Linked DNA regions of Homo sapiens. The protein of the gene in region 4 binds, or shares a complex with, the protein of the main gene of each other region. Each region holds a gene or a part of one and is shown on either strand. Other genes may lie near its edges.

Region 1 (7,775 bases), on a different chromosome or scaffold from region 4:
AGTTATTTGGTTTGTAATGACCACTTACTTGCTAGTACCCGTTTATTTGTTCATCACTTTTACCCATTCACCCTAGATCCTCCCCACCATACAAACCAGAATGTTTCAGCTTTCCCAGCCACTGTAACTGGAACAACAGAAACTTGTGAGCCATTAAAGTGTCCCCATGTTAGGAGAGTGCCAGACAGGTGTCACCTAACACTCACTTCTCACCTATATTGTGGGACAAGTCAAGATCATAGTAAATCATACCTCAATGAGAGATTTTCTTAATGTAAGACAGCATATTACCTCTGTCTTCTCAGCTCCTATTTTGTGTAAGCTCCACAAGGAGGTAGGTGCATTATGTCCCCTGATAATGCTCAGCTTCATTTTTGGACTGGCTCTCTGTAACTCTGATCAAGGCTTGTAAGAGCCCTCCCTAATGCCATGTCTTTACCAGCACCTGATGCCTCCTACCTCCCCCACCTCTTCCAAAATACTTGCCTAGTTCCAGCCAGACCTCAAAGCAGTGGGCAGAAAGAAGATATGGCTTTGTGTAGGTTAGGGGAAAAAATGGGTTGTTATGGTTGGTGGAACACAAGAGAGGGAAAAGACAAGCATTATTAAAGGAGAGGACAATACTAAACCTACAAGTCTTCAACACCCTTTCTTCTTTAACTTTCACCAATCCATACTTCTTAGCTATGATGCCAGCCCTGCACCATCACCTGTCCTGCTCCTGGGAATCTCCCCTACGGGCCTGAAGGTGGGTCACAACACTTCAGGGAGGAGTGGGAAGCCTTTCTCTACTTTTTTCTACCTATGACCAGATTCACATCGCATTGCCGAGGGCAAGCAACATGACTCAGAGAAGAGGGGAGAGAGAAAGTGTGAATTCTAGAGCCAGACTTGCACCCCTGAGTATTCCAGAATTGACTGGACAGAAAGCAAGGCAACAATATTGGGTTAAAAGCTATTCTCTAGCAAACAAAAGCATAAAGAAGAGCACAACTGGAGAAAAGGTGGCAAAGATGGTGGCTAACATCGATTGAAAGTTGAATACACGCTGGGCACTGAAACACTTCTCAACGGTCTCAGGTAATCCTTGAAGAGAGGGTATTATCCTTTTACAGTTCAAGTATTTAAGCTCAGAGCTCACTTTAAACGAAAGAGAAAATGATATGTTATGGAGGTAGAATACTCTTAGGTTAAACAAAAAAGAAAAAAAATCTATTTTTACGTATCCGAAGAGTAATCACATGATGCTACAAAAGCATGAGAACCACACTACTCAAAGGGTACGAAGGCCGGGACCCATACTCCCATTGTCTACAGATGTTTTGGAAGTATTAAACTAAATAAAAACACAATGCTTTGTTCAGACCGACTCCTCTCTCAGCCCTACTCTTTCCCCCTCCCAGCCTAGGCTGACAAGAAGTGGCTAAAGGGAAAGTATTTAACAGGAGAACTGGTCTGGGAAAGTGGATTGTGGGTTGCTTAAACTAAGCAAAGACGTTGTGCAACCAGTTTTTACCTAAATTATTTTTCATTACTTCCCAAGTTTAGAGAGCAGCAGTTCACTTTATCAGACTGAACACAGGGAATGAGGTCGCCTTTCCCTCCAGGCCACCACTGGAATCACCTTCAACACGGTTTTGACTTCTTACACAATCAGACGGCGGGAGGGGGGAATCTCATCCTCAGCTTCATAGATAAACGCACCTCACGGCACACACACACAAACAACTCGCGCACATCTGAGGCCACGGATTTCCTTGCAACTCAAAGTCGGAGAAGCGGCCAAACAAGTTTCTTGCCAAATCCCTAGTAGCCACATATGTCCCAGGGCCGCACAGCGATAAAAACTTTGAAACATGCCTCCACATACCACCATTGTGGTCACTCACTCCAGATCCCGCCACCCCCTCCTCACAAATAACAAACTCAGGCTGCCCTGTGCAATTTAAAGCTAGACTCCACCGAAGCACTGGCTCTGCTGTGAAAAGCGGGAGAAAAAGATTGAAGGCTATTAAAAAAAACAACAAACAAACAAAAAACAAAACAAAACAAAACAAAAAAACAAACTACGGCCCCCGGGGCGGAGGGAATAAAACGAACTCGAAAGCTGGAGAAAAGTTAACTTTGCCGTGCCCAGCGGTGGGAAAATTTCCCCGGAAGACTAGCAAAGCCCTCACGATTTTCCCACCCCCGGACCGCCCGACGCTCGGCGGCCACGGACCCGCAGTTCGAACAATGCCGCCAGTGGGAGGGAAAGTTCGCCAGCCCGCCGGGCGCCCGCGCTCCCGCTCCCGCCGGGTGGGCACCCGGGCTTCCCGGGGTGCCTCGCCGCACCCAGCACCACCCGTTCTCCCCTCTCCAGGCACTCGGTTCTTTCCGCCCCCCAACAGCTAAACAGCCAGGGCGCGCCCTCGCTCCCTGGAGCATCCGACCCCTGGCGGCCGACAGAGCAGGTCCTCCCGCCACGGGTCTGGCCCCGTCAGCCCCGAAGCCAGGCAAAGGGCAGGAACGGAGGAGGGGGCGCCAGGAGGGGGCACCGGAGGAAAGAGCCGCAACAGTTATGGCGCTCAATTCCTGCCCGGTGTAGCCGGGAGCTGCAGCCGAGCTCGCGCGTCCGCCCCCGCCCCCCGCCCGGGCCACCAGGCACTACCCGGGCGGGCAGAGGGGCCACCAGGCACTTTACCTCAGCCCACACACGCTCTCGGCCCCAAGGCGCCGGGGACGCCGGAGGCGACCACGATGTGGAACCGGAGCGACCCGGAGCGCGGCGAGGCCGGGCCGGGACTGTGCGCTCCGCGCCGCCCGCTTCCACTCCCGGAGGCCGCCGCTCCCGCCGCCCAGCCGGTGCGACGCCCCCAACCTCGCCCGCGCCGGGTCCGGCCTCCGCGGCGCCTACCTTCGCGCAGCTGGCTCGCGGCTCCTGCCCGGCTCCACGCCGCGGCCCGGCAATGTGCCGGGTGAGTCCGGTCGGAGTGGTAACCGCCCCCCTAACCGCTCGCTTTCTTCTCTTCCCTCCCTCGCACCTGCCCCTTAATCCCCTCCTCGCCCCCGCCCCCCGCCGGGGCCGCCCCCCGCGCCTCAGCTCCCGCCCTCGGCCCTCGTCCGCCCGGCCCGTCAGGCCTCAGCGCTGGGCAGGCGGTTGGGCGGCGGCGGCGGCTGAGGCGGCGCGGAGCACTATTGTATTCCTGACACTGTGCGCTCCCACGCTCCGCCTCTTCCCTTTCCTTCCTCCCCCAACCTCTCCTCCCACCCACCGCCGGCCGCGCTCGCCCTACCGGAGCGGCTCCCAGCCGTCTGCCCGCCGCGCGTTCTTCTGGCGGGCTGGGCGCCGTCGCCACCCGCCGCCTCGACGCCCCGCCCACTCGCCGCTCCCGCACCCGCGGCGCCGCGTTCCAGGTGGGCTCCCCTCCCGTCCAGCTGGGTGCGCCACTGCCCGAGACGCCCCAGCCCCGCCGAGCGCTAGAGAGGACGAGGTGCAGATGCCTCGGCTGTGTTGAAATACAAACTAAGCTTTTCATGGCCCCTTCCAACTCTGAAGTTCCAAAGTGGGACTCTCATACATCAACTCGGTGGCCGCTATTGATTTATGTCGCTTGTGCTTGAATTACCTGTAATAATAAAGCCAAGGTGGCTATTAACATAATTCATTTATTCAGTTGCCAGCACAGGTGGTTTGTGATGTTGTGTGGCTTTTTCGATGTGTCCACTGGTTAGGCTATCGCCCACAGTTATTTGATCGAATGCCAATCCAGGTGTTGCTCTGGAGGTATTTTGCTGATGTAATTAAAGCTCCTAATCAGTTGACTTAAAGTTAGGGAGATAATCCTGGATAATCTAGGTGGGCCTGACGGAATCAGTTGGAAAGCCTTTCAATCAGGGCTGAGGGTGCTGAGTACGTCAGAGAAAGAGAATTTCCCCTATGGATGACACCTTTGGCCTATGTCCATTGGTTCCAGCCTGCTCCTGATCTTCCCTTCCTGACTGTATGCCCTACAGATTTTGGATTTACTTGGCCACCATAATCGTCTAAGACAATAGCTTCGAAGAAATGAATGAACAGGGAGTATATATACGTATATTCCCACCACGCATTCTTCTGGCAGGCTGGGCACCGTGGGTGTATGTGTGTGTGTGTGTATATATATATGTATGTGTGTGTGTATGTATATATATATGTGTGTGTGTATATATATATGTGTGTGTGTGTATATATATATATATATATATAATTTCCTACTGGTTCTGATCCTTTGGTTGAATCCTAATATAGATGTTTAAGCAACAAACCTTTTTGGCTTACCTCTCTGGGTTTGGAAATGTGCTATATGCAACTATGATGAACTCATTCTCTTTCTTTTTTCTTTTCCTTTTTTTTTTGAGTCAGGGTCTCACTCTGTCGCCAGGCTGGAATGCAGTGGCTCGATCTCGGCTCACTGCAACCTCTGGGCTCCCTGTCACCCAGGCTAGAATGCAGTGGTGAGATCTCTTGGCTCACTGCAACCTCTTGGCTCCCTTCAACCTCCACCTCCGGGGCTGAAGTGATTCTCCCACCTCAGCCTCCCAAGTAGCTGGGACTACAGGCACATGCCACCATGGCCCAACTTATTTATTTATTTATTTATTTGGTAGAGACAGTTTCACCATGTTGCTCAGGCTGGTCTTGAATTCCTAAGCTCAAGCTATCTGCCTGCCTGGGCCTCCCAAAGTGCTAGGATTACAGGCATGAGCTACTGTCCTGGGCTATTTTCGTTTACATTTCTAGGATGAACAATAATGTAGGCTCTTTTGTATTTTGTCTGTTTTCCATGTTAAAGATCTAGTTATATTCCATAATATGGAAATGCGTGAGTTCTAAAATATTCGTAGTCCTTCAGACTTATCTCACTTTATTATACTTATTTAAAAATAATTATAGATTCATCAGAAGTTGTAAAAAAAAATGTACAGAGTGGTCCCATGTACCCTTTGCCCAGTTTCCCCCAATGGTAATAGATAACTATAATACAATATAGATATTAACATTAATACAGTCCACAGACCTTATCCAGATTTCATCAATTTTCATGCACTGATTTCTGAGTCTGTGTATATAGTTCTGTGCAATTTTAACACATTTAAATTTGTGTAATCACCACAATCAACTTTTTCTCCACCACAAAGATTCCTCCTGCTACACTTTGTAGTCACAGTCACCGCTTTCTCCTCCTCTAATTTCTGGCAACCCCTAACACGTTCTCCATCTCTATAAATTTGTCATTTCAAGAGTATTACATAAATGGAATCATACCTTTTGAAATCAGCTTTTCTTCACTCAGCATGATTTTCTTGAGATGTACCCAAGTTTGTTGCATGTCTCAATGATTTGTTGCTTTTTATTACTGAGTAGTATTCTGTAGTATGGATGTCCTACAGTTTGTTTATTCATGCATTGAAGGTCATTTGAGTTGTTTCCAATGTCTGCCTATTAAGAATAGAACTGCTATGAGCATTAATGTAGAAGTTTTTGTGTAAACATAAGTTTTCATTTCTCTGTGACAGATGCTCAGGAGTGCAATTGCTGGGTCAGATGGTAAGTGTATATTTAGTGTTACAAGAAAATGCCAAACTTTTCCAGACTATACCACTTTATATTACCACCAGCAATGTATAAGAGATCTAGTTTCTCCACATCTTTGTCAGCATTTGGTATTGTCACTATCTTTTTCTTTTAGCCATTCTAATAGGTGTGTAGTGATACCTCATTGTTGTTTTAAATTGCATTTCCTTAATGGCTAATGCTGTTGAGCATCTTTTCATGTGCTTATTTGCCATCTGTATAACCTCTTTGGTGAAATGTCCGTTCAAGTCTTTTGCCCATTTTCTAATCAGATTGTTTCCTACTGTTAAATTTTGAGAATTCTGTATACTACATTCTAGATACAAGTCCTCTGTCAGATATGTGATCTGCAAATATTTTTCCCAGTTTGTAGCTGGTCTTTTCATCCTCTTAAGAGATTTTGCAGACCAAATTTTAAATTTTGATGATGTCCAATTTATCAATTTTTGCATTTATGTATCATGTTTTTGTGTCATGGCTAAGACATCTTCATCTAGCTCCAGGTCCTGAAGATTTTCTCTTATCTTTCCTTCTATAAGTGTTATAGTTTTATATTTTACATTTAAGTGCATGATTCATTTACTTTTTATATAGGATCTAAACCTAAGGTTGAGGTTCATATTTTTGTCTATGGTTGTCTGATGGCTCAAATAAAATGACTACTTTTCCTCCACTGAATTGCTTCTGCACGTTTGAAAAAATCGATTGGGCATATTTGTGTGGGGCTATTTGTGTGGGGCTGTTTCTGGGTTCGCTATTCTGTTCTATCGATCTATGTGCCTATACCTCTGTGAATACCAGTCTTGATTACTCTAGCTATATAATAAGCCTTAACATTGGGTAGAGCACTTCCTCCCACTTTATTGTTCTTTCTCAGAATTGTTTTAGCCATTCAAGGTCATTTGCCTTTCCATATAAATTTTGGAATGAGTGTATTCTGTATCTACGAAAACCTTGCTGGGATTTTGAAAGAAATTGTGTTAAGCCTATAGATCAGTTTAAGGTGAATTGACATCTTTACTATTGTATATTGAATTTTCCAATCCATGAACACGATATGTCTATCTCTCCATTTATTTAGATCTTCCTTGACTTCTTTCGTCAGCATTTTTGAATTTCCAGCATACAGAACCTATGCATGTTTTGTTAAATATATACCTAAGTATTTCATTTTCTTTGTCATGATTGTAAGTGGTATTGTGTTTTTAATTTGTCTTCACATTCATTGGTCATTGTTAATATATAGAAATGCAATTAATTTTTATGTGTTGATCTTGTTTCCTCTGACCTTACTAAACTCACTTACTAGTTCTAGGAATTTTTCAGCAGATTCTTTGGGATTTTCTATGTAGACAATCATATTATCTGTGAATAGGGACAGTTTTATTTCTTCCTTTCCAATCTGTGCGCATTTTATTTCCTTTTCTTGCCGTCTTGTTCTAGCTAGAACATTCAGTACAATGTTGAATAAGAGTGGAGAGAGTGGACATACTTGCCTTGTTCCTTATCTTAAGGGGAAACATTGTCTTTCGCCATTAAATATGATAGTTGCAGGTTTTTTGTAGATGCTCTTTATTGAGTTGAGAAAGTACCTCTCTATTCACAGTTTGCTGAGAGTTTTTATTATGAGTGAATGCTGAATTTTGTCAAATGCCTTTTCTGCATCAAGTTATATGATCGTGTGATTTTTCTTCTTTAGCCTGTGGATATGGTAGATTACATTGATAGAATATTGATTTTTGAACCAACCTTTCATAGCTGGAATAAACCCCATTTGGCCATAAAATAATTATTTTTATACCTTGCTGGATTCTATATTGCTAATGTTTTGTTGCAGATTTTTGTGTTAAAGCCCATAAGAGATAAAAGTCTGTAGTTTGGGGGAGATTTTTGCTACAGTCCTTGTCTGGTTTTGGTATTAGGGTAATACTGGCCTTATAAAATGAGTTGAGGAAGTTGTGCAGAAAAGAGTTAACATAACAGGCTCTTGGCAGGCATCTGTGAACTTGGATTTCAGGAGAGCTCTCATTGTTCCCAGAACTGATAAGAATGGCTAACTATATCTAAGCTGTTTGTACAAATGTTATTTATGCTGGGACTAGAACTCAAGTCTCCTGATTCTCAAGCTGTGCAGAAAAGAGTTAACGTGAAAGGCCTCAGTGCTATCCTTTGAAAGCCC
Region 2 (7,410 bases), on a different chromosome or scaffold from region 4:
AAGTGATCCAGCTGCCTCAGTCTCCAAAAGTGCTGAGACTACAGGTGCACACCACTACATCTGATTAATTTTTGTATTTTTTTTAGAGTAGGGGCTTTGCCATGTTGCCTAGGTTGGTCTCAAACTCCTGGGCTCAAGTGATCCACCTGCCTCAGCCTCCCAAAGTGCTGGGATTACAGGTGTAAGCCATCATGCCCAGCTTAGTTTAGATGAATCTTTATAGTAGTATATACTACGACACTACTGATTATAAAATGTACTATTGATTTACTAATATTTGTTTTCCAGGAAAAAAGAAACGATTCCATTCAATGCTCACACTGATAATAATATATACCTTGATTTCAGAAATAACTAAATGTGAAAAAAAAAAGTACATATTAGAATCAAAGAAATGTAATGTGTTTCTTGTCAACAGACTTCAAAGTTTTTGGGGATAAGCCAATTTCTGGTAAGTAAGATGAACCCACCTAGAGGAATGTTCTGGCCTTAGAAGTTGTTTAACATAAAATCCAATTCCAGGAAGAAGGGAGAGAAGCTTGTAAGGATGGGAAAGGGCAGATGGGCACTTGCTCCAGGTGCATCAGCACCACTTCGCAGGTGCCTCTGGGCATCACGCCAGAGGCCTGCTCTTTGGCACCCAGTCAGATACAGACATTCTCAAGGGTAAGGTTTTTATCATTCCTCTACTTACTTCTACAAGGGTCAGCATTCTTGAAGCAATGATTGTCTTTTCCTTCCTCTTCCTCTGTTTGTCTTTTCTTCCCAGGCTGATGCTGGAATGCTTTTCTCAGGACTGGCTTCCTGCCATCTTCCTCCACTTCAATCTCACAGGTAGGCTCCAGCTGTGGCATTGGCCTCTCTTCATCTGAGTTGTCAAAGGGCTCATTCAGTACTTCTGTCGTCTCTGAAATGGTCTCTGTTGTTACACTGCTGTTGATCCTCCTGCGTTTACGACCCCTTTTCTTCTTTAGTACAAAAGGCCTCTGAAATTAATTCCAAACATAACACATAAGAGCTCATGAGAAATTAAATGGTTGAGTCGATATGCAGTAGACATGTACTGAACGCGTGTCTGAGAATCTTACACGTGGTGACTTCTGTAATGCCTTTGTACTTAACCTTCCATTTGATGTCTAACATCCCTCTCGGGCTCCAACTACACAGGCAAGTGTTTTCCAAATAAAACAGTTGTTTACTCAAGCAGATGCTCTGAGAGGGAACATCCTAGCAGCTTGACTGGAGATTTTAAAAACTAAGCTTTGCTTTTCTAGCATATATTTTTCCAATGGTACTTGCTGGCTTCAATATTCCTCACATCACAGACATTTAAGGTCATCACAGACTCTAATGTCTTTATAAATGGTGCTGTAATTAACTAGCCACTGGGTTAACCCATTTAATACTTGAGAACTCTTGAAGGAGCACCCACTATGTGGACAGCACTGGGAAATATGATACAAGACCAGCCTACTTTTTCTCATTCCATAGGACTTCAGGGCTATGAAAAGGAAAGGAAAGGTACCTGAAGAAAGGATTACTGTTTAAAATGTTAACAAAGTCAAGTATTGGTGGCTGCTGAGATGTGAGCAACTGATAACCTGGCAAAATATTTTAATAGAAGGAATCTAAAAATGTTAAAGACATGCCAGATGTCTTATTTGTATGATATAAAAATATTTTTTTCTTTTATTTTTCTTTTTTGTAGAGACAGGGCTTTGCCATGTTGCCTAGGCTGGTCTCGAACCCCTGAGCTCAAGTGGTCCACCCGCCTTGGCCTCCCAGAGTGCTGGGATTATAGGTGTGAGCCACCGCACCTGGCCTAAAAATATTTTTTCTGTTTGCACTAAAGGTTGGCACAAATGACTGTCCATAATTGTAATTATAAAATGTTTTTCGCCCAGCAAAAAAGTTTTTAATGACACAAAATTCAAATAGAGGAATAGCAGGTAGATTTGCTGCTAAGATGTAATTGTTGCCCCCCAAATTATTGAAAATACACTGCAAAGAAGGGTTCAATATGCTTGGTTAAAAGCTAACCTTCAGGTAAACTGTATTCAATTATTATTATTATTATTTTAAAAATACTTATTTATTTTTTATAGAGACAGAGTCTTGCTTTGTTGCCCAGGCTGGTCTTGAACTCCTGAGCTCAAATGATCCTCCTGCCTCAGCTTCCCAAAGTGTGGGGATTATAGGCGTGAGCCACTGTGTCCGGCCTCCAAGAATTCTTGTGTCTTACTTTTGTTAACGCTCTGAATGCTCACTGAAGCACACACGTAGCCAGTTAATCATATTCTGTAATTAAACATTTACGGTTATTATTCCCCCCAGTCTGCCTGCCCTCTTTAATCCATGAGAATTTTCCCTAATATGAGGGAAGCCAAGGTAGAGAACTGGTTTTCTTCAGGTTGAGTCCAGTTCAGATCATGCCTTGGATGATTCTGGTTTTTGATAGTTTTAGAACAAATTTCTTTTATTATATATACAACACATGAATACACACTCCTCCTAAGAAATGGAAACATTATTCTTAAGCCTGAAGTCTACTTTGTGGGATGCTCCTTTCTACCACCTCCCCATGGAGACCCTTCCAGAAGACTGCCAGGCCTAGAAGAGCGCTGAGCTGGGAGTTAGAACAGCAAGTTCCCTAACAGATGCCACATCAGATGGCCTTGGGGCGGAGCCTTAGCTTGTATTGTGATATCTCTATCAGTCTTGGCTCTCCTCTATGTCCCAGATAGATACTGAAGACAAAGATATCAGATCTGGGTGAGCAGTTACCTAAAAACAAAGTCAATTCTTTACTTTCTGTACCATTGGAGATGATATGGTCTATCTAGAGACATCACTGGGCTACTAAGATCTGAGGAGATTCAGTAATGCGCAGTTGGCCACAAATGCAAAATATCACCATCAAAATTAAGGGCCTAAAATGCTTTCTAACAATTCTGTGCCAAGAACAAGAGAAAGAAACAGCATGAAGAGCACTGGGCTTGGAGTCTTTTTGTTCTGTTTTGAGACAGAGTTTCGCTCTTGTTGCCCAGGCTGGAGTGCAATGGTGCGATCTCGGCTTACTGCAACCTCTGCCTCCCTGGGTTCTCCTGTCTCAGCCTCCCGAGTAGCTGGGATTACAGGCGCGTACTACCGTGTCTGGCTAATTTTTTGTATTTTTAGCAGAGACGGGATTTCACCACGTTAGCCAGGCTGGTCTTGAACTCCTGACCTCAGGTGATCTGCCCACCTTGGCCTCCCAAAGTGCTGGGATTACAGGCGTGAGCCACTGCGCCCAACCCAGGCTTAGAGTCTTGAGCACGCATTTGGTTCTGCTTCCATCTCTAATGAGTCATATGACCTTAGAGAAGTCTCCTGGCCTCTAGGTCTTGGAGGGTGGTTTAAGTGCTTTCTGGGGCCCCTTTTTGTTCCCATAAACCTCAGTTACTCTACTCCTGCAGACCAGCAGGTGGCAGTGACTACTAGACTAGGAGGCTGGCCTGTCCCTGGTTTCCTGTCACCGCACTAACAAACCTGAAAAGTAAACATAATCATGACTGTGAGATAAACGATTATGATATATGATCAGCGGGACTGGGTACACATAAACTACGACTAAAGAACAGAGAGTGAAACAAATACTAATAGACAGAATGTCTGCAATGACAAATAAGATTTGATTGAACGCGACTCACAGAAAATCTAAACAGACACCTACCTTTCTCTTTATGGCAACTGACTGTGGTTTCGTCAATCTTGGGGGAGAGCTTTGAATATTTTCTTCTTCTTCTTCTTCTTCTTCCTCTTCTTCCTCCTCTTCATCCTCTTCCTCTTCTTCCTCCTCTTCTTCCTCCTCCTCGTCCTCCTCCTCCTCTTCTTCTTCACTGCTCTCTTTAGACAGCTCCAGCAGCTGCCCTCGCTCCCCTGTGACTGGCCGGCTCTCCGGGGAATGCAAATATTTATTTTTCGATTGTACTTTTGCAGGTGATTGCCTACTGTTAGCTCTAGTTGACAGGATTTCTTGTTCCTCCTTCTCCCAGCAGCTAGCTTGTTCCATTAGCCGCTCAGCCTAAGTGGGGAGGGTAAAAATGGTGGCCAGTGAGAGGGCAGTTACACAGCCAGAGCCTCTGAGGATCAATGGCAAAGTGTCTCTAAGTCGGTTCTGATCAGGACAGCCAGCCAGCCAAGCACATTCCAGCTGCATCATCTCAGGAACCTTTTGCATCAGTTAGGATAACAAATCAAAGAAGATTGGGTTTCATGGGATATTTAACAGTATTAATGATGCAGCGAATTGATTTGAGTCCTTTATCACTACATTACATGCTCACTGGCAAGGAGCACTTTAAGCAAGTTCATAAACACAAAGAATCAATTGACACTGCAGCCTTGGAGCTCAGCACCGAATTTGATCTGATTACATGCTCTCAGTAGTGAAAAATGCTGCTTTGTAATCAATGATAAATGTTTCATTTTTCATACTCAATTCAATAAAATTATCATGTCTTACCATGCAACCTCAGTTAGGATAAATTAGTGCCATATCATTTCACATGCTATCTCTACATAACCAAGCTTTTGACAACGATCTTAATGACTTTCTTAGCTTAAGAATGCTACAAGATTGAAGTTACACAACTTAGGATGATAAAGACAATCATTACCTCTTTCTCAGCTTCTCGCTCTTCTTCAGACACTGCAGCATTAGAAATTAAAATTGGGGTCCACCTCAGACTGTCTGGATCAAGTTCATTGGCTCTGGAACAGGTTTTCAGCTTTTCCATGTGGCTCAATATCAACTTTTCCCGTCTAATGATGACAAATCTGTAATGTGATAAGGCAGAACAAGATGTAATCACAAGCTGAAATTTCACTTCAGCTTCACATACGGACATATGCTAGCACTAATGTTATCTGCGTTAGGAAAAATCAGAAAGCACCTCAATGAGAGGGTACAGAACACTGGAATCCAACCAGTAAAAAAGTGTCATTTCATGTGTTATTTTTAGGAGAAAAGGTTTGATAATACTGTTAGGGAACCTCAGTCTTTAACTGGAATGAATGCACCTATCTCCAGGGACCCTTTCTGGTGTGGGATGCCTGAGCCACGGAGCTGCCCAGGGTCCCAGGACTCACCTGCCATCTCTCTTGTCGATCATGTGGAGGTGCTGCAGAGTGGTGGCAATGTCATGTGGGCACATGCCCGTCGCTCTGCTAATTGCCTTGATGCTGATGTGCCTCTCATGGTGGTGGTAGAGATACTCCAAGATGACGCTCTTCCAATATGCCAGGTAGGAGAGACGGCCCAGATCGGAGAGAGGCTTTTCAGGAGACCCTGCTTGGCCTTCTCTTCTAGAAAGCAAATAGCCTAGGGCAGAAAAAATAAATGGGCATTCCTCACTGTGGCATTCCCAGAGCTTAGAACAGGAGCCACTAGAAATAATATGAGTAGTGACAAGGTAAAAACATCACAACAGAGAAGTGCATTCGCTTTAGGAATGTAGCCTCTTCCCAGTTATAGTGATTTGATCTCCGTGAAGTTTACGCTCCTGAATCTTTGACAGTGGCACTCTAAGTCAATTCACGCAGCTAGCAGCAGCATTCCAAACACATATTGTGACATATTTAACAAAGACTAAAAGCTATGGTTGAAGACATTACTCCTGCTAAGTCTCAACATCTAAGTCTCCCACAGCTTTAGATTCTTTCAAAAACGAAATGTCAGGCACTTACTCAGAAATCCTGTCGAGGGACCACCCCCAACATTAATGGGCAAGTTGTTTTCCACAGGAAGGACCTAATGACCCTTTGACAGCTGGGTCTTAATAAAAAGAGAAGGACCTCTGTTGACTCAGAGTCTATATTGCTTGTTACATTTAACTAGCAGGTTGATCTGAAGCTTTGTTTTAGGACTAATAAAAGAATGTCTTTCAAGTCAACTGCTGCAACTCCCATCAGCTCCACTAGCTCCATTTTCACCTCTTTCATAGAAATTAATTTACAATCCAATCCCAGAATATTGCTCCTACAAATTAAGACAAAACAAAACAAACTCCTTAAAACAACCTATTGCATGTATGCTCAGAAAATCCCCCAGCATCTTAAGCTTTTGAACGCATTTTACAGCATTACTGTGAAGGTTCCTTGGCAAAGGAACTTTAAAAATGGAAAAAAAAAAAAAAAAAGAAACCAGCCCTTTAAATCCACTTGAAGGTAATGAATGAAAGCTGGCGGCTGTCTCAGTAATTAAGAGCCACTTATGGGGTAGAAAAGAAATGCTATAAGCTAATGATGTCTACCTTGCTCTAATTATCTATTTCAACAGCCTCACCTTCATGAACTTCCTAAGTTTAAACAAACATCAACCACATACAGTAGGTGGCAGCAATGACAAAATCATACGGCTCCATAAACCACCCAAATCTTCAGCATTTTTCTTCTTTATCTACATTTCCAAAATGGCTGCATTCTCAAGAATTTTCTCAATTTTAGGGTTATTTTTTGTTAAAGAAGAAATCAATGCCTCTGATGCATTTTCCTGCATCTCAAAATCACTGCAAATACAGTAATGCAGAAATACAAAACAAGAATCCAGCCTGAACCCTCGAAGGGTATAATCACAGCATTTTGCATTTTGATGGCTTTAATCTGAATGCCATTATGAAGAATAGGCGTAAATTTAACTTCAGGTTTTGCTAAGGTCTTTTGACTTATTTGTCTCTTTAACCCATGTTTAAGTGCAAAGTATTTGACTGAATGCAAACAAGCACCGCAACATTTTACAGTGAAACCACTGTCTACATGTAATTTGGCAGCAGATTGGGGCTTTCAATAGCAGTGTGTCAGGAATGCTAACACAGTGATGGCCACTGTGCCGAAGCCAGCCCATATTGTGTCCTGTCAACACGAAGAAGAGCTCTCTACGTCTCTGTGTTGCCAGAGTATGAAGGGAGCCCACACCTCAGAATACAGATAATTGGCACATCCGTCACCTGCCTCCAAAGTGCTTGGCACATGCTGAGAAACGTACCCAGGAGGCTGGGGGGTCCCAGCTTTGTACTCCTGGGGGGGTGAGAACCATAGAGCCGTGGATATAGAACCATTCCCTTTTGTCCATGAGATCCCACAATTGAAAGTCCCCTGCAGTGAGTGTGAAAGTCCCCAGGTCCTCTACTGGTGCTTATTTGAATCCAGCAGTCAAGGACAGAAAGCCCCACTCCTCTCAGCCTTGCTGAAAGAATTCTGTACAACCAAAGTGTTCATACCAAGGTGGTATGTGCCCCCCCATACCTTATGTCCCCCACTATGATGGGCCAGCTTACCCAGAAGCACATGTGTTCCTTTGTTCTGTCTCCCCGCTACAGTCCCTAATCCGGAAGGCAGCAGCAGCCAGCATCAGAAAACCCACGCTTTCCG
Region 3 (7,874 bases), on a different chromosome or scaffold from region 4:
TGAAGGGTCCCAGGGAACACACACGACTCTCAGTTGGAACCCCTGGAGGCTTATGCTACTGGAGCAGCAGCAAAAAAGAGGTGAATTAAATCTTGCCAAAACCCAACCCCAAGTTAACTCAGTCTCTGGTTGATTAAGGTGGTTAGCTCTCACTCTAAATGCTTTGCAAAGGACAGTAGGAATCCTTCTCTGGATGATGATAATACTATCCAGAGCCTCTGCAATTTTTCATACTTGAAAGTGTGACATCCTATTAAAAATTCTCAGGCAAGCTAAGAGCCAGGAAAAAAAATGACCGAAACCAATGGAAAGAATATACAATAGAAATAGATCCACAGAAGATTCAGCTATTGTAATGATTGGAAAGAGCTTTAAAATATCTAGGGTTAAAAAAAAATCTAGGATTGATATGTTCAAGAAAATAAAGGCAACAGCAGAGAAAATACATATATAAATAAATAATTTCTCCAAATGAATTTGATTTTAAGAATCGTATGAAAATTCTAGAACTTAAAAATATAATAAACAAAATAAAGAATTCACAAATGGGTTTAAAAGTACACAATTAAATAGAAAATATACCGACTCATGCATAGAGAAAAAAATGGGGGAAAAAAGATGATAGGAAATACAGATGGTAAACAATGAAAAATTCTGACATATGTATAATTTAAACCCTAAAAGGAAAGGAGAGAGAAGAGACAGTGATCAAGAATTTCCTAAAAGATATAAACCCACAAATGCAAGGGACTCCGCATACACCCATTGCACTCATGAACCCAAGTAGGATAAATACAAAGAAAACCACATCTACACACGTCATAGTAAAGCTGTTGACAACCAAAGACAAGAAAAAATCCTAAAAGGAGTCAAAGGAAAAAAGACATTACTTTCAAAGGAATAAAAGGGAGTGACAGAAACCAGAAGACAATGGAAGAACATCTTCAAAGTGCTGGGAAAAAAAAACCAAAAAACAAAAAAAACTTGCCAAATCAGAATGCTATACCCAGCAAAAATATGAAGGATAATGCAAAGTTTTAGGCAATAAAACCCCACAAAAAACAAAAAGCAAAAACTCAAACAACCTTGGAGAGAACTTGTCATCAGCAGACCTGCTGTAAAACAGGGGAATTATTCAAATAGAAGGAAAACCTTCAGACAGAAGCACAGAAATGCATATTGGAATGAAGAGCAATATAAGGATAAATATGGAGGTTAATCTAAATGAGTACTTATTGTACAGAACAATAAGTATAAATTCTTGTGTGGCTTAAAATACACACACAATTAAAATCCTTGACGACAATAAACACAAAAGGGAGATGGGTAGGTGGAGATACAGTATTTTAATGTCTTAGCATTCCCGGGGAAGTGGTAAAAGTAATTATTTTGTATAAGATCATAAGTCAAAAAGCAATGTTGTAATCTCTAAAACTAGTAATGTATAATTTAAAAATTAATAGAGGGGGTTAATGATATAGTTAAAATATTTTAATTAATTCAAAAGAAGGCAAAAAGCAGAGAACAAGGAATGTGAAATAGGTGATCCAAAATAAATGGTAAGATGGTAGGCATACATCCACATATACCAGTAATTATATTAAATGTAAATGGACTAAAAATGTTTCCTGTTGAAACCAGGACAGAGCAAACTTCCAATTTCAGGCTGGCATGGACTCTGTATAAGACACAAGTACCAAGTACAAGTGAAAAGGCAGGGATTCCTAGAGCAAAATATGCAAGGGGGAAATAACCTTTAGTTGCCAGCTCCACAGGGCTGAATCGTGAGTAAAGTTTGAGCTAAGAAAAACTATCCTTTCAGAGTGCAGATTGCTTTTTAACTTGCAAATGATGAGGACTTTAATCCGTCTTTGTTGCAAGATTTTTATTTTGAGAAGACCTCCTGAATGTGCCATTTAGTTATGCAAATGTAAAGCAGAGACTCTTTATGGAAGCTGTGTGAAAAGCTCAACTGTGCTTTGTTGTTATAAATTGTTTTAAATTCTTGCTACTGTTTAATCCCCAGTTTGGTCTTTTCACAGGATGGCTGTGGCTAGTTTTCTTCCAAATTATCCAAAAGTAAACACAACTCATCTCTGTATTATTTTTCTTCTGAAGGCCACACACTCTAGTCTCACATGAAGAACTCATTGTCTTTGCATTAATATGACTTTATCTGCCCTCTTTGGGAAATAAAAATCTGCCTATTCTACTAAAAGAAAATACATATATATATATATATATATATTTTTTTTTTTTTTTTTTTTTTTTTTTTTCCTGGAGGTGATTTCATTACAAACAGGGACCATTTTACCTGAGAATGTGTCTATCTGATTCATCTAGGATGAAAGAGATCCTTTCTATTGGATTATCATGTATTCCAAATTTCTCTACTGCTTTGGAGATGGGGCTTGGAAGTAGGCGATGAATGGCAACTCAGTCAACCTCACTACATTACACTTCTGTTTCTGTCAGTGTCAGGATATTGATTAGGCTGGACCATGATCTGAAAAGTTACGTTATTCTTACTGAATGGTCCAGAGTCTACCGTATGGAGGGTAGGGCTATGGATTAGAGTGGAGACGGGATAGATAGAAAAGTTTGGGTTCCCTCTTGCTGTGTCTCTCAGGCTGGAGTGTAGTGGCGATCATAGTTCACTGCAGCCTGGAACTCCCGGGCTCAAGCAGGCCTCCCGAGTAGCTGGGCTACAGCAGCGCCCCGCCACAAACGGCTTTCTTAACGGCTTAAAAAATTGTTCATTCACGAGCAACATTTTTTTATTTTAAACCGCCTACTACAGTACTTGTACAACATTATTCTAGGTGCTGGAGATGCAGAGTCATTATAGGAGAGCATTTACCAGTGAATGTATTCGGAATATATATATATATATATATATATCACATGTAAGTGCAAAATGACTAGAGCAAATGATACTACTACAGAAGTTCAGAAAAGGAAGTCAGCATGGAAGTTAAGGCAGTGGGTGAGAGGGAGGCCCTTAAAAGCTAAAGCTGAGATAAAATGAGGTATTGCGGGCGACAGTCTAGGCGGGGTGTGTCGTATGGGGTTGGGGACAGGGCAGATAAAGGTCAGGCAGCAGGATACACGTCCATGTCAACGATTAAACATTTAGTGTCTTTTTCATGTCTACTGTCTTTCTAGTGAATGCAGAAAAAAAAAAAATGCATGACTTGGCCAGGTGCAGTGTCTCAGGCCTGTAATCCCAGCACTTTGGGAGGCCGAAGAGGGCGGATCACTTGAAGTCAGGAGTTCGAGACCAGCGGCCTGGCCAACATAGTGACACCCCGTCTCTACTAAAAATACAAAAATAAGCCAGGCGTGGTGGCGGGCGCCTGCAGTCCCAGCTACTCAGGAGGATGAGGTAGGAGAATCGCTTGAACCCAGGAGACGGAGGTTGCAGTGAGCCAAGATCGCACCACTTGCACTCCAGCCTGGGCAACAGAGCGACACTGTCTCAAAAAAAAAAAAAAAAGTATGACTCAGTCTCTGCATCAAAGAGTTTAAAGTAGATGAAAGGCAAGACAAAGAAACGTCCATACAGCCAGTAGTGGACAGGCAGGCCATGAAGAACCGCCTGCTCGTGGTTCCAACGCCCTAAGTATGGACAAGAGTTCCGCACAGGGCAAGAAGGGAAGACCGGCTTTGGAATAAGACAAATCTCAGTCCCAGGCTCAGGTGCGCGCCACATACTAGCTGTGTGACCTTGTCCAAGTCACACGACCCAGGTCTGTGGAGTCTCCCATAAAATGGCTCTAGTGAGCTCCAAGAACCCTCTCAGCTGCTGGGGGAGGGAAGAAATGAAGTCACTGCTGAAAGGGGTTAAGACGGGTGCTTCTGGTTCCACCCTCTCCCCAACTCTTCCCACCGACACAGGAGAGCCGTCGGGGGCTGAGGCGAGCTGCCAGGGGTGAGGACGGGAAGCCGCCTCCTCTCCGCCCCCCAGGCCCCGCCCTCGGGCTCCGGAAAGTCGCTGTGCAGGCAAATGAGTGGGGAGGGAGGGCTCACTAACTGTAAACAGACGCCGCCGAGAGTTCCCATCCTGCGTGGCTGCCGGATTTCCGTGCCACACTGAAGCCACCCCACCCAGACTCCTGCCCTCAGTTTCCCCAGCGGTGGCATGGGGTGCACCAGCTCCTCCTCTCCCGGGTCGCCGTCTGACTTAAACGCGTGAGACGGGAGAGGAGGAACCCCCGCTCCCCAGCCTCCAGCCCCACCAAGTCCTCCTCCTCCCCTGGCTTTGGCCTTTTGTACCGGCCCCACGTGACCCCGCCGGCCGGCTCTTCCCTGCTGCCCCGCCCCGCCCTCCGGCCTTTCCCGGCTCTCGGCCCAGCTCTTCCCGCTCTCGGCCGCCCCCCACCCGCGCTGCCGGGCCTCCGCCTCCCCTCGCCGCCCGCCCAGGCTCTTCCAGCTCCCTCCCCCAGGCCGCCGTTCCCTCGCGACGCTCCCCTCCCCCCGCGGCTGTTCCGCCGCCTTGCCTCCCCTCCCCCCGGCTGGAGCTCACTGTCTCCAAGATGGCGGCCGTGTCAGTTTGGGGCATCTCCGCGGTCCGGCCCGGGGCCCCGGGATCTCGGCTGTCCTTCCTCCCGGTAAGTAGCCGAGGGGCCGTTCCCGGCCGCCCCCGGCCGCCCAGCCCGAGGCCGAGCCGCTCCAGGGCCCACTCCGCTGCCTCGCGGGGTCGGCGGGCCGCTGCAGGCCCCGCCGCGGCCTGCGCCGCCTCCCGCTGCTCTGCGCCAGGCCTCGGGCTGGGGCGCCGTGGCCGCCCCCTCGCGCCCGCCCGCTCGCTCGCTCGCTTGCTCGCTTGTTCGGCGCCCGGCTGCCCCGGCCCGCGGCCCGCGCGCCGCCGCCCGGCCCCGCGCTCGCGGGCCCCGCGCCCCCGATCCCGCCGGCCGGGCCCGCCCTGGGGGAGCCGGCGGGTGGGCGGGCGGCGAGCGGCCCAGGCCGCGGAGCCTCGGGCTGGCGGAGCCGGCGAGCCCGCTCTCCCTCGGGGCGCGCCCACCCGCCCGCCGCGCGCGTGCCGGCTGTGCCGGGCCGGGCCGCTTCTCCCCGCGCTCGCGGGCGCTCGGGTTCGGGCTCGGGCTCGGGTTCCGGCTCCGGCTTTGGCTCCGGCCGGGGGCGCGGGGATCCGAGCGGGGCTGAGGCGGCGAGCGGGGCTGACAGGCCGGCGGGTGTTGTGGTGCGAGGCGCAGCACGTGTGGTGTTGTGTCTGCCGGGCTGTCAGCCCAGCCGCCGAGGGGAGGCCGGGCGCCTGTCAACCTCGCGGCTTGGCCCGGTGCGCGACTGTCAGGCTCCCAGCAACCCGCGCCGCCCTCGAGCCGGCCCCCAGAGCTTAGGGTGCGGAGCTGGGCCGGGGCTATGCACCGCTCTGAACTCCTTCACGTGATTTCATTGTTAACTTGTGCTCGGGGTCTGTTTCCATCGCGTGGAAACGGTGCAGCGCCCCGTCGGCGAGCTGCCGGGCTGTGCAGATCCAAGTTTTTAAAGTTTCTCGCTCTTTGAAAAGAGAGCGCGAAGACGTGTTTAGGGGTGGGGAATGGGGACGGGAAGGACTGTCGGAAGCGAGTTGCGCTCGCTCTAGCCGCTCGTGTACTTTCCGGGAGTTAAGATCCGAGGCTGCAGGCGCTTGACTTTCCGAAGACCTGGAGACTGATGACAATCCCGACTGGAAAGACAATGAGTGACTGTCACTCATTCTTTTACCTGCGAAGCTTAGTCAATTAGGACGTTCGTTCCCAGCTTGTTAAACTCAGGATGTAGCTTCTCATTTAGTTTAGACTTAATATCTGTATAATGAGCTTACTTGGAGTAATGATACTCTGATTTCTATCCTCTTGAGACCCTCACCAAATTGAAGCATGATTCTCCCAGGGGGCTTCTTTTTAGGCAGCTGATTTAAAAACAAATCTTGGCTCAGGTTTGAATGTTTGCTTCACTCTTTTCTTTCCTATCAGAGTTAATAGTAATATCTCTTTCCTAGTGTGTATTAGTTTTCCGTTTGATTTTAATGTCACTACCAAGAATAGTTGCTGTGGGAGCCATTTGTCTAGCATTGTTTATATTGTAATGCAAATGATCTCCAGAATGAGAGCAGAAGTTCTAAAAAACACTTCAGTTAAACTTATTTTTGGAGGCAAAAGAGTTAGATTCAGAATTCAGTACTTTAGTGATTAAACAAGATTGCATCTACCAGATTCTTTTATAGGGATACTGACTTTGATTCAGAGAGACAGTACATTTCTGTTTATGTTTTATTAATGTTCGTTTCAGGACAGCAATCTTGAATTTATATCTTTATTATTTGGGCTTCTCTTTAGTCCTACAAGTAGCCAGTGTATTTCTTTTTCTGTACCGTCCGTTTGATATGTAGTATGTGCGTTGACCCCAGTGATTCTGGGCCTTCCTCATTTCTAGTTTTCCTGTCTGAATTACTTACACGCAGTTTGACAGTTGTGACTCTCTTCAGCATATGAATAGAAACATCTTAGTTTGGGTTAGGAGAAGCTATCAGCATGTAATTCTTAAAATTTGAATGAAAGTGGATTATTGTTAAATTCAGTAAGCACTTTTACTCTAGGCTATTTTCAATAGTATTTTTGTTTCCATTAGGAGAGATTAAGGTAATACTGTACTTAAATTATAAACTGGGTGTGCATATTGTATTCATTCTTTTCATGTAAGAACTAAAATTTTCTCAGTCGTTTTCTGCCTTATTGACTGTTTTTGTCTACTCTGAATGTCTAGAATTTTGAAAGATGAAAGATTCACTTTTACTTTCATTGCAGGATTCTTTCTACTAATCCAGATACTTGTTGAAGTGCTGACTAGTTTCTTGGGGAAAGATGTCAAGGAAGAGTTGAAATTCCTAGACTGGTGAGCAGAGATTGCGGAGTACAGAATAGCCATCACCCACTCTGGTTAGTGGTAGCTTAAAGGTCATTCTTAGAACATGTCATCGTGTTTCCTCATTGTATCCTAATTACTCATCTTTTTTTTTTCTTTTCTTTTTTTTTCTTTTTTATCCCAATGGTTTACATACATGATTGTTTTGGAATATTAATAGATAAGTTTGGAAATTCTTAAGGGTGCCTAGTAAACACTTGCTGTTTGATTGCTTTATGATGAGGATGCTTATTTTCATTCGAAATAGGTCTTGGTAGAAAACTGACCTTATTTTCATTGCTTTTCAGGCATAAGATGCACATTTTTCTGCTCTGGAGCCGGGAATGAAATATTCTTGAGTTCTTACAACTTTATGACGAGACCCATGTGTGGTGCTATTGAGAAATTCATTGGGAAGTTGGAAGACATTTCAATCAACAGGTTGTTTTGGTTTCTATAGTACAATTGGGGTGGCATTCTGTTTTGTGAAAGGAGGAAGGACTTAGGCCAGAAAACTCATATGCTATGGTTAACTGGTTCCCAGCCTCCGAGAATCTTGTTTTCCATGGTGTAAAACTTACTCAGCATCAGGATAAGGGATAACGACTCTATGGATATACAGAATCCTTCACCATGGTAAAACTCGCAAACCCGCTTTATACTGAGTGGATTTTGGAGGCCATCAAAAAAGTGAAAAAGCAGAAACAGCGTCCTTCAGAAGAAAGGATATGCAATGCTGTGTCTTCATCCCATGGCTTGGATCGTAAAACTGTTTTAGAACAATTGGAGTTGAGTGTTAAAGATGGAACAATTTTAAAAGTCTCAAATAAAGGACTCAATTCCTATAAAGATCCTGATAATCCTGGGCGAATAGCACTTCCTAAGCCTCGGAACCATGGAAAATTGGATAATAAACAAAATGTGGATTGGAATAAACTGATAAAGCGGGCAGTTGAGGGCTTGGCAGAGTCTGG
Region 4 (8,363 bases):
GACTCTAAAAATAATAATAACCAAGGCTGGGTGTGGTGGCTTATGCCTCTCATCCCAGCACTTTGGGAGGCCGAGGCGGGCAGATCACAAGGTCAAGAGATAGAGACCATCCTGGCCAATGTGGCGAAACCTTGTCTCTACTAAAAATACAAAAATTAGCTGGGCATGGTGGCAGGCACCTGTAATCCCAGCTGCTTGGGAGGAAGAGGCAGGAGAATCGCTTTAACCCAGGAGGCGGAGGTTGCAGTGAGCCGAGATTGCGCCACGGCACTCCAGCTTGGGTGACAGAGAGACAGACTCCGTTTCAAAATAATAATAATAATATAATAATCAAAAATTGGAAGTAACCAAGATGCTCTTTAATAAGTACATGGGTGGCCAGGGGCTGTGGCTCATGCCTGTAATCCTAGCACTTTGGGAGGCCGGGGCAGGCGGAACACAAGGCCAGGAGATCAAGACCATCCTGGCTAACACGGTGAAACCCCATGTGTACTAAAAATACAAAGAATTAGACAGGCGTGGTGTCGGGCGCCTGTAGTCCCAGCTACTCGGGAGGCTGAGGCAGGAGAATGGCATGAACCCGGGAGGCGGAGCTTGCAGTGAGCCGAGATCCTGCCACTGCACTCCAGCCTGGGTGACAGAGCGAGACTCTGTCTCAAAAAAAAAAAAAAAAAAAGTACATGGGTAAACTGTGGAACATCCGGACGTTGGAATATTTTTCAAATTAAACATGAACTAGCTATTAAGCCACGGAAAGGCACGCTGGGACCTTAAATGCATATTGCTGAGTGAAAGAAGCCATTCTGAAAAGGCTCATACTGTATGATTCCAATTACATGACATTCTGGAAAAAGCAAACTGGAAACAGTAAAATGATCAGTGGTTGCCAGGGGCCTCGGGAGGGGGAGAGGGATGAATCGGGAAGCGCAGGGGATTTTTAGGGCCACAAAACTATGCTGTATGACATGTAATGGGGGGTAGCTGACATTATACATTTGTCAAAACCTATAAGAATGCACAAGGCACTGGGCGTGGTGGCTCACGCCCGTAATCCCAACACTTTGGAAGGCTGATGCCAGTGGATCACCTAAGTTTAGGAGTTTGAAACCAGCCTGGCCAACAGGGTGAAACCCCATCTCTGCTTAAAATACAAAACTTAGCCAGGCGTGGTGGTGCCTGCCTGTAATCCCAGCTACTTGGGAGGCTGAGGCAGGAGAATGGCTGGAACCCAGAAGGCGGAGGTTGTAGTAAGCCAAGATTGCACCATTGCACTCCATCCTGGGCGAAGAAGCCAGGCTCCATCTCAAAAAAAAAAAAAAAAAAGCACAAGGCAGAATGAACCCTTATGGAAATAATGATGGACTTTGGTTAATAATAATGTATCGGGCCCGCCGTGGTGGCTCACGCCTGTAATCCCAGCACTTTGGGAGGCCAAGGCAGGAGGATCATGAGGTCAGGTGATCAAGACCATCCTGGCTAACACGGTGAAACCCCCGTCTCTACTGAAAATACAAAAAATTAGCCGGGCATGGTGGCGGGCACCTGTAGTTCCAGCTACTCAGGAGGCTGAGGCGGGAGAATGGCGTGGATCCGGGAGGTGGAGCTTGCAGTGAGCCGAGCCCAGCTAATTTGAGGTCTCAAAAAAAAAAAAAGTATCAATATTGTTTCATCGATTGTAACAAATGTATCACATTAATGCAAAATGTTTATAATAGAGGAGTGTGTGTGTGTGTGTGTGTGTGTGTGTGTGTGTGTGTGTGTGGAGGAGTATATGAGAAGTCTACTTTCTCTTCAACTTTTCAATAAACCTAAAACTGATGGAAAAATAGTCTATAATTAAATGAGGCCAGTAAGGATGCACTCAAACTGCTAACATTAGGACTGAAAGCTGAACAAGGCAATCACAGTCCTGCCCCCTGGGGAGGTGGGAAGCTAAAAGTTCCTGTATTGTTTAATTTTTTTGTTTTTGAGACAGAGTCTTGCTCTTGTTGCCCAGGCTGGAATGCAATGGCATGATTTTGGCTCACCGCAGCCTCTGCCTCCTGGGTTCAAGTGATTCTCCTGCCTCACCTTCCCAAGTAGCTGGGATTACAGGCAGCTACCACCACAACCAGCTACTTTTGTATTTTTAATAGAGATGGGGTTTCTCTGTATTGGTCAGGCTGGTCTCGAACTCCCGACCTCAGGTGATCCACCCACCTTGGCCTCCCAAAGTGCTGGGATTACAGGCGTGAGCCACCACCCCAGCTGAATTTTTTTTTGGGGGGGGAGGGGTTTGCTCTTGTAGCCCAGGCTGGAGTGCAATGGCATGACCTCAGCTGACTGCATCCTCTGCCTCCTAGGTTCAAATGATTCTCCTGCCTCAGGCTCCCGAGCAGCTGAGATTGCAGGCCCATGCCCACCACGCCTGGCTAATTTTGTATTTTTAGTAGAGACTGGGTTTCTCCATGTTGGTCAGGCTGGTCTCAAACTCCTGACCTCAGGTGATCCACCCACCTCATCCTTCCAAAGTGCTGGGATTACAGGCGTGAGCCACCATGCCTGGCCTGAATTTTTATAATGAACATAATAGTGGCAAAAACATTGTTTCTGGTTTTCAATATTTGACTGGGGTTTAGGGAAGAGTCCACCAAGGGGGACATAGCTTGTTTTTTTAGGTGGGGGTCTCCGTCACCCAGGCAAGAGTACAGTGGTTTGATCATGGCTCACTGCAGCCTAGACCTCCTGGGCTCAAGCCATCCTCCCGCCTCAGCCTCTCATGGTGATCATACGGATTTGAGTCACAGCAGCTGGCTTAATATCTTTAAAAATGCATTTTAAATAATGAAAGTACTGCTCCTTTGATCAGCTTATGCTAATTTGTGTGACCAGCAACGTTGCATCTCGGAAGTCAAGGATGTGGCTGGGGGTGGGGCGGGGGGTTCTGGGGCCTACACGTTACATCTAGTGGTCATCAGTTCTTGGGGCTCGGGGAGCCTTTGGGACGTCCTCTTGAGATCACAGGGAGTGGAGACAGGACTGGGAAGTGACACACCTCACCCATGAAAGACCTGCCAGAGATGAGTTTGATCCCCAGCTTGGGGGCGTCCAGTGGTGAAGTGGGAAGAGGAGTGACATGGGTACTGGTGAGCACTGCATGATGATGCTACACAGTTTGGAGGCAGAGAAGAATCACCCCAAAGACTAATATTTAAACACTTTAAATTATTTTATTTTATATTTTAAGATGGAGTCTCGCTCTGTCACCCAGGCTGGAGTGCAGTGGCACGATCTCGGCTCACTGCAACCTCCACGTACCAGGTTCAAGTGATTCTCCTTCCTCAGCCTCCTGGGTAGCTGGGATTACAGGCACCAGCCATTATGCCCGGCTAAGTTTTTTTTTTTTTTTTTTTTTTTTGGGACGGAGTGTTGCTCTGTCGCCCAGGCTGGAGTGCAATGGCACGATCTCGGCTCACCGCAAGCTCAGCCTCCCGGGTTCACGCCATTCTCCTGCCTCGGCCGCCCGAGTAGCTGGGATTACAGGCGCCCGCCACCATGCCCAGCTAATTTTTTTGTAGTTTTAGTAGAGATGGGGTTTCACCGTGTTAGGCAGGATGGTCTCAATCTCCTGACCTCGTGATCCTCCCGCCTTGGCCTCCCAAAGTGCTGGAATTACAGGAGTGAGCCACCGCGCCTGCCCTATTTTATTTTATTTTTGAGATGGAATCTTGCTCTGCTGGCCAGGCTGGAGTGCAGTGGTGCAATCTCGGCTCACTGCAACCTCCGCCTCCCAAGCTCAAGCGATTCTCCTGTTTCAGCCTCCCGAGTATCTGGGATTACAGGTACTTGCCACCATGCCCGGCTAGTTTTTGTATTATTATTATTTTGAGACGGAGTCTTGCTCTTGTCACCCAAGCTGCAGTGCAGTTACATGATCTCTTCTCACTGCAACCTCCCTCTCCCAAGTTCAAGTAATTTTCCTGCCTCAGTCTCCGAGTAGCTGGGAGTACAGGCGCCCGCCACCACGCCCGGGTAATTTTTGTATTTTTAGTAGAGACATGATTTCGCCACGTTGGCCAGGCTGGTCTCAAATTCCTGCCCTCAAGTGATCCGCCCGCCTCGGCCTCCCAAAGTGTTGGGATTACAGGCGTGAGCCACCGTGCCGAGTCTGAAACATATTTTAATTATGTTTCTCCAGTATTTTTTTTTTCTTAAAATTTTCTTTTTTTTTTTTGAAGACAGAGTCTTGCTCTGTCGCCCAGGCTGGAGTGCAGACGCGATCTCAGCTCACTACAACCTCCGCCTCCCGGGCTCAGCCTCCGGAGTAGCTGGGACTACAGGCGTGCGCCACCACGCTTGGCTAATTTTTTTTTTTTTTTGTATTTTTAGTAGAGTCGGGGTTTCAACACGTTGGCCAGGCTGGTCTCAAATTCCTGCCCTCAAGTGATCCGCCCGCCTCGGCCTCCCAAAGTGATGGGATTACAGGCGTGCGCCAGCGCGCCGGCCTTCTCCAGTATTTTTGCATGCATCTTACGGCACACCTTTGCACGCCATCTTATTAACTATATCATACTGCCGCACGTGCCTTTTCGGCCAAGGCATCCAGATGGTGCGGGTCCTGCCTGCCTCGAGAGGTGGCAGCAAAGGAGCCAGTGCCCTCACTGGTGCTGGGCGGGGCGGCCGCTTTCCTCGGAGGGAAGGGGCGGCGTTGGCGGGGGAAGGGCGCCAGGGCCCAGGCCCTGAGGGAGGGGCAGCTCGCCCGGGCCACGCGGTGCCGGCCCTCGGCTCAGGCCGGGCTGAGGCCCCGGGGGCTCGGGGTCCGGGGGAAAGGCGCTGAGCCAGACAGGTCCCAAGGAGCCTTCGGGAAGGGAGGGCCTCGTGGCGGCCTGTCCGGGACCCGGCCGGGAGCAGGGGTCGCGTGGGCGCCGTCAGGACGGGCGTGAGGTCCCCGGGACCACGTGTTTGCGTTTGGTGGCCCAGGGGTCGCTGACAGGTGCGGAGGGGAGACGCCCACCTGGGTGCCCTGGGCCGCACGCCGGGCGGTGGGGCCGGGAACCCCTGCTCCTCCTCGGCCTCCGATCCGCTGCGGCCCTGGGTCCTGCTCGCTGCCCGACGCCGCTGCCACAACCTCCGCCCGGGCCCCGCAGCCCGCCGCCCGCCGGAAGCTGAAAGGCGTGTCCGACCCCGCCCCCGGGCGCGACCAATCAGCGCGCGCGACTCATGAATAGTGAGCGCGCTGGCACCGCCCCGCCCCCGCCTCCCGCGGCACCGCCCGCCCGCGCAGACCCCGAGCGCGGCCGCGGACGAAGATGGCGACCGCCATGTACTTGGAGCACTATCTGGACAGTAAGCGCGCCCCACGGGCCCCGCGCCCGCCGCCCACGCGGAGTCCTCCGTGCCGCAGCCCCCCGCGCGCCGGGCACCGCATGCAGACCCCGTGGGCTCGGGAGGGCGGCGGGCGCGGCCGGGCGCGACGGGGGGCGCGCGGACGGGGCGGGGCAGGGCCGCAAGGGAGGGGAGGGCGCGGGGGGCGGGCGCGGGGGGTCCCGCCGGCTGGGTCGCGCCAATTCCAGGTGCGTCACGGCGGGGCGGGGCCTGGCGATGCTGGGCGGGGCTTGCGGCCTCGACCCCGCCCACATATTAGGTCCCGCCCCTACCCAGGCCCCGCCTCATCTCCGCCCCCAGCTCCGGCCCCGGCCCCGCCAGGTCCCGCCCGTCCCTGTCCCGTCTGCAGGAGGAGCTGGCGCCCGCTGCGGGGCTCCGGGCCTTGGGGGCTCCGGGGTCTGGGCCTCCGCCTGGCTGTGCGCCCGTGTGCGCCGGCCTCTTGTGTGACCGCGGCTGGGGAGGGCGTGCGGGCCGCGGGGCGTCTCTCCCCGGCACTGGGGACTGCGGCGCGGAGGCGGGGAGGGCGGTGCCGAGTCGGCCCTGGTGGGCGGGCTGTGCTGTTTCCAGGTGGCAGCAGGTCGGCGCCCCCAGCGGCTGAGCGGACGGTGCTTTCCCTCACTTTACACACCAGGGAAGGTCCAGCGCTGCCGAGCAGCCTGCTCAGGGTCTCCCGCTCGTAGAGGGGCAGACCCCACGCGGGACCCCTGACGTCGGCCCGGGATGGGCACAGCTTTGGGGTCGCGGTGTTTGGGGTTGTGCCGGGTGGCTCTGGAGGGCCCTTGTGGGGGCGCTGCACTGGGGATCCTCATGGTCTTCGGCCTGGCACCCGCCCAGGGGCTGAGACAGTGGCGAGTGAGCCGTGGCCTGGAGCTGGAGACCGCTGCCCTAGAGGGACGCCCGATTCTGCCCATGTGCTCCGCTGTCTCTTGGGGGTCTGAGTAGTGGGGGGTTCCCTGGGTAGAAGAGTCAAGCTGGGGAGCACGCTGGAGGGGAGGCCTTCTCTATCCTGGTGCCCAGCCAGTGGGCTGGCCTCCCAAGGAGGGTTGACTTTGTGTGTGTCTGGGAGGCTGTGCCAGCCGGGAGGCTGTGCCTCTGTCCTCTAGGGGAGCTGGGAAAACACTGGGGCTGGAAGCATCAGATGCATAAGATAGAGTTAGGTTTAAAATGATTGCCTGGTAACTGTGAACAGCAGATGGGAGGGTGGCCAAGACTGGAGGAGGCAGCCCCCCTTAGGAGCCTGTGTCAGCTGTGCAGGGGGCGGAGGTTGGCCTGGTCTAGGGGGTAACAAAGCAGACGCGAAAGCAGCACGGGGGTCCTCCTGGCAGACTGTGGGGAATGGTTGCGCTAGCCACAGGGACTATTTAAGTAAAATTAAAAATTGAATGGCGTTAGTCCCATTTCCAGTGCTCAGTAGCTCCCTATGGCCACCACTGTCTTGGGCAGCTCAGAGAGAACATTTCTTTTCTTTTTCTTTTTTTGATTTTTTTTGAAATGGAGTCTCACCCTGTTGCCCAGGTTGGAGGGTATGATCTCAGCACACTGCAACCTCCACCTCCCAGGTTCAAGCAATTCTCATGCCCTAGCCTCTCGAGTAGCTGGGACTGTAGCTGTGCACCACCACGCCTGGATAATTTTTGTATTTTTAGTAGAGACAGGGTTTCACCATGTTGGCCAGGCTGGTCTTGAACTCCTGACCTCAACTGATTTGCCTGTCTTGATCTCCCAAAGTGCTGGGATTACAGGTATGAGCCACCACGCCCATCCGAGAGAGGAAACATTTCTATCCTTGCATAAAGTCGCGTGGGCAGCGTGGCTACACTGCTCAATGCACTGGATTTCTGGGTAAAGTAGGGGAAGATCAAGGAGGACCCAGGGGATTTTGGCTTGAGCCTTGGAAGATGCTGCTCACTGAGGGGGGGCAGCCTAGAGGGTGGGGTCAGTTGGCCTCCCCTGCCTGTGCTGTTGGTTTCCAAGTTTCCCTCTCCCTTCTTTGACTTCTGACAGCTTCCGAAGTGTGCACACAGCCTCTTGTCAGCACTGTTTGGTACCTGCATCTAAAAATGAGATCACAGTCCTTCCGCTCCGCAAACCCTGACAGAGACAGAATACAGAGTGGGCTTGTAGACTTGAAGTATAAAACTTTTGGCCAGTCCTGGTGGCTCACACCTGTAATCCCAGCACTTTGAGAGGCCGAGGTGGGCGGATCACCTGAGGTCAGGAGTTCGAGACAAGCCTGGCCAACCTTGTGAAACCCCGTCTCAACTAAAAATACAAAAACTAGCCGGGCATGGTGGCATGTGCCTGTAATCCCAGCTACTCAGGAGGCGGAGGCGTGAGAATCACTTGAACCTGGGAGGTGTAGGTTGCAGTGAGCCAAGATCGCACCACTGCACTCCAGCCTGGGCAACAAGAGTGAAACTCCATCTCAAAAAAAAAAGACAGAAAACCTTTGGAGGTGAATTTTTGTCTTGCTGCTGAGAGGTACATGGCTTCTGTGTTTTTGCGTTTCAGGTATCGAGAACCTTCCCTGCGAACTTCAGAGGAACTTCCAGCTGATGCGAGAGCTGGACCAGAGGACGGAAGGTGGGTTCAGACCTCTCCATACAACCAGAACTGAGTTCTGACAGGTGGGAGCCAGCAGCTCCTGAAGGCTGGGGGCAGAGGGTTTTGAGGGGACCCAGGTTAGTGGGGCATTGGCCTAGCCCTGGGCCGTGGGTATCACTCAGTGTCTTGCAGTAGGTGTTGATACTTTTGAAGCCACATTGTTTCTTGGGTTCTTACACATCTTTATATCATGTTTTTATAACCATCACCCTTTCCAATCAAAATATTTATTGCCAATTTTTTCTTTTAAATATTTTCAATTTTCAAAGTGTGTAGTGCGTGCATTGTTTTAAAAGTTTGGTAGTACTTTTTGGCCGTTTGATATTTAACTCCGTTTCTTTTTTTTTGAGACGGAGTCTTGCTTTGTCGCCCAGTCCGGAGTGCAGTGACGTGAT

The links.
Region 1: ING5 (region 4) and JADE3 share a complex: the UniProt entries of both Homo sapiens proteins name them as parts of the HBO1 complex.
Region 2: ING5 (region 4) and KAT6B share a complex: the UniProt entries of both Homo sapiens proteins name them as parts of the MOZ/MORF complex.
Region 3: ING5 (region 4) and KAT6A share a complex: the UniProt entries of both Homo sapiens proteins name them as parts of the MOZ/MORF complex.

Annotation. Positions count from the first base shown.
Region 1 is NC_000023.11:46,907,841-46,915,615, reverse strand, and holds the start of JADE3 (protein Jade-3), read right to left. Parts: upstream 3,196-7,775; 5' UTR 2,897-3,195; intron 1-2,896. UniProt on the Homo sapiens protein: Scaffold subunit of some HBO1 complexes, which have a histone H4 acetyltransferase activity.
Region 2 is NC_000010.11:75,018,534-75,025,943, reverse strand, and holds part of KAT6B (histone acetyltransferase KAT6B), read right to left. Parts: intron 5,363-7,410; coding exon 5,131-5,362; intron 4,819-5,130; coding exon 4,659-4,818; intron 4,212-4,658; exon of another isoform or gene 4,153-4,211; intron 4,064-4,152; coding exon 3,713-4,063; intron 987-3,712; coding exon 695-986; intron 1-694. UniProt on the Homo sapiens protein: Histone acetyltransferase which may be involved in both positive and negative regulation of transcription. Required for RUNX2-dependent transcriptional activation. May be involved in cerebral cortex development.
Region 3 is NC_000008.11:42,048,637-42,056,510, reverse strand, and holds the start of KAT6A (histone acetyltransferase KAT6A), read left to right. Parts: upstream 1-4,523; 5' UTR 4,524-4,610; exon of another isoform or gene 4,611-4,761; intron 4,762-7,208; 5' UTR 7,209-7,533; coding exon 7,534-7,874. UniProt on the Homo sapiens protein: Histone acetyltransferase that acetylates lysine residues in histone H3 and histone H4 (in vitro). Component of the MOZ/MORF complex which has a histone H3 acetyltransferase activity. May act as a transcriptional coactivator for RUNX1 and RUNX2.
Region 4 is NC_000002.12:241,696,778-241,705,140, forward strand, and holds the start of ING5 (inhibitor of growth protein 5), read left to right. Parts: upstream 1-5,261; 5' UTR 5,262-5,288; coding exon 5,289-5,325; intron 5,326-5,690; exon of another isoform or gene 5,691-6,889; coding exon of another isoform or gene 6,890-7,106; intron 7,107-7,875; coding exon 7,876-7,947; intron 7,948-8,363. UniProt on the Homo sapiens protein: Component of the HBO1 complex, which specifically mediates acetylation of histone H3 at 'Lys-14' (H3K14ac) and, to a lower extent, acetylation of histone H4. Component of the MOZ/MORF complex which has a histone H3 acetyltransferase activity.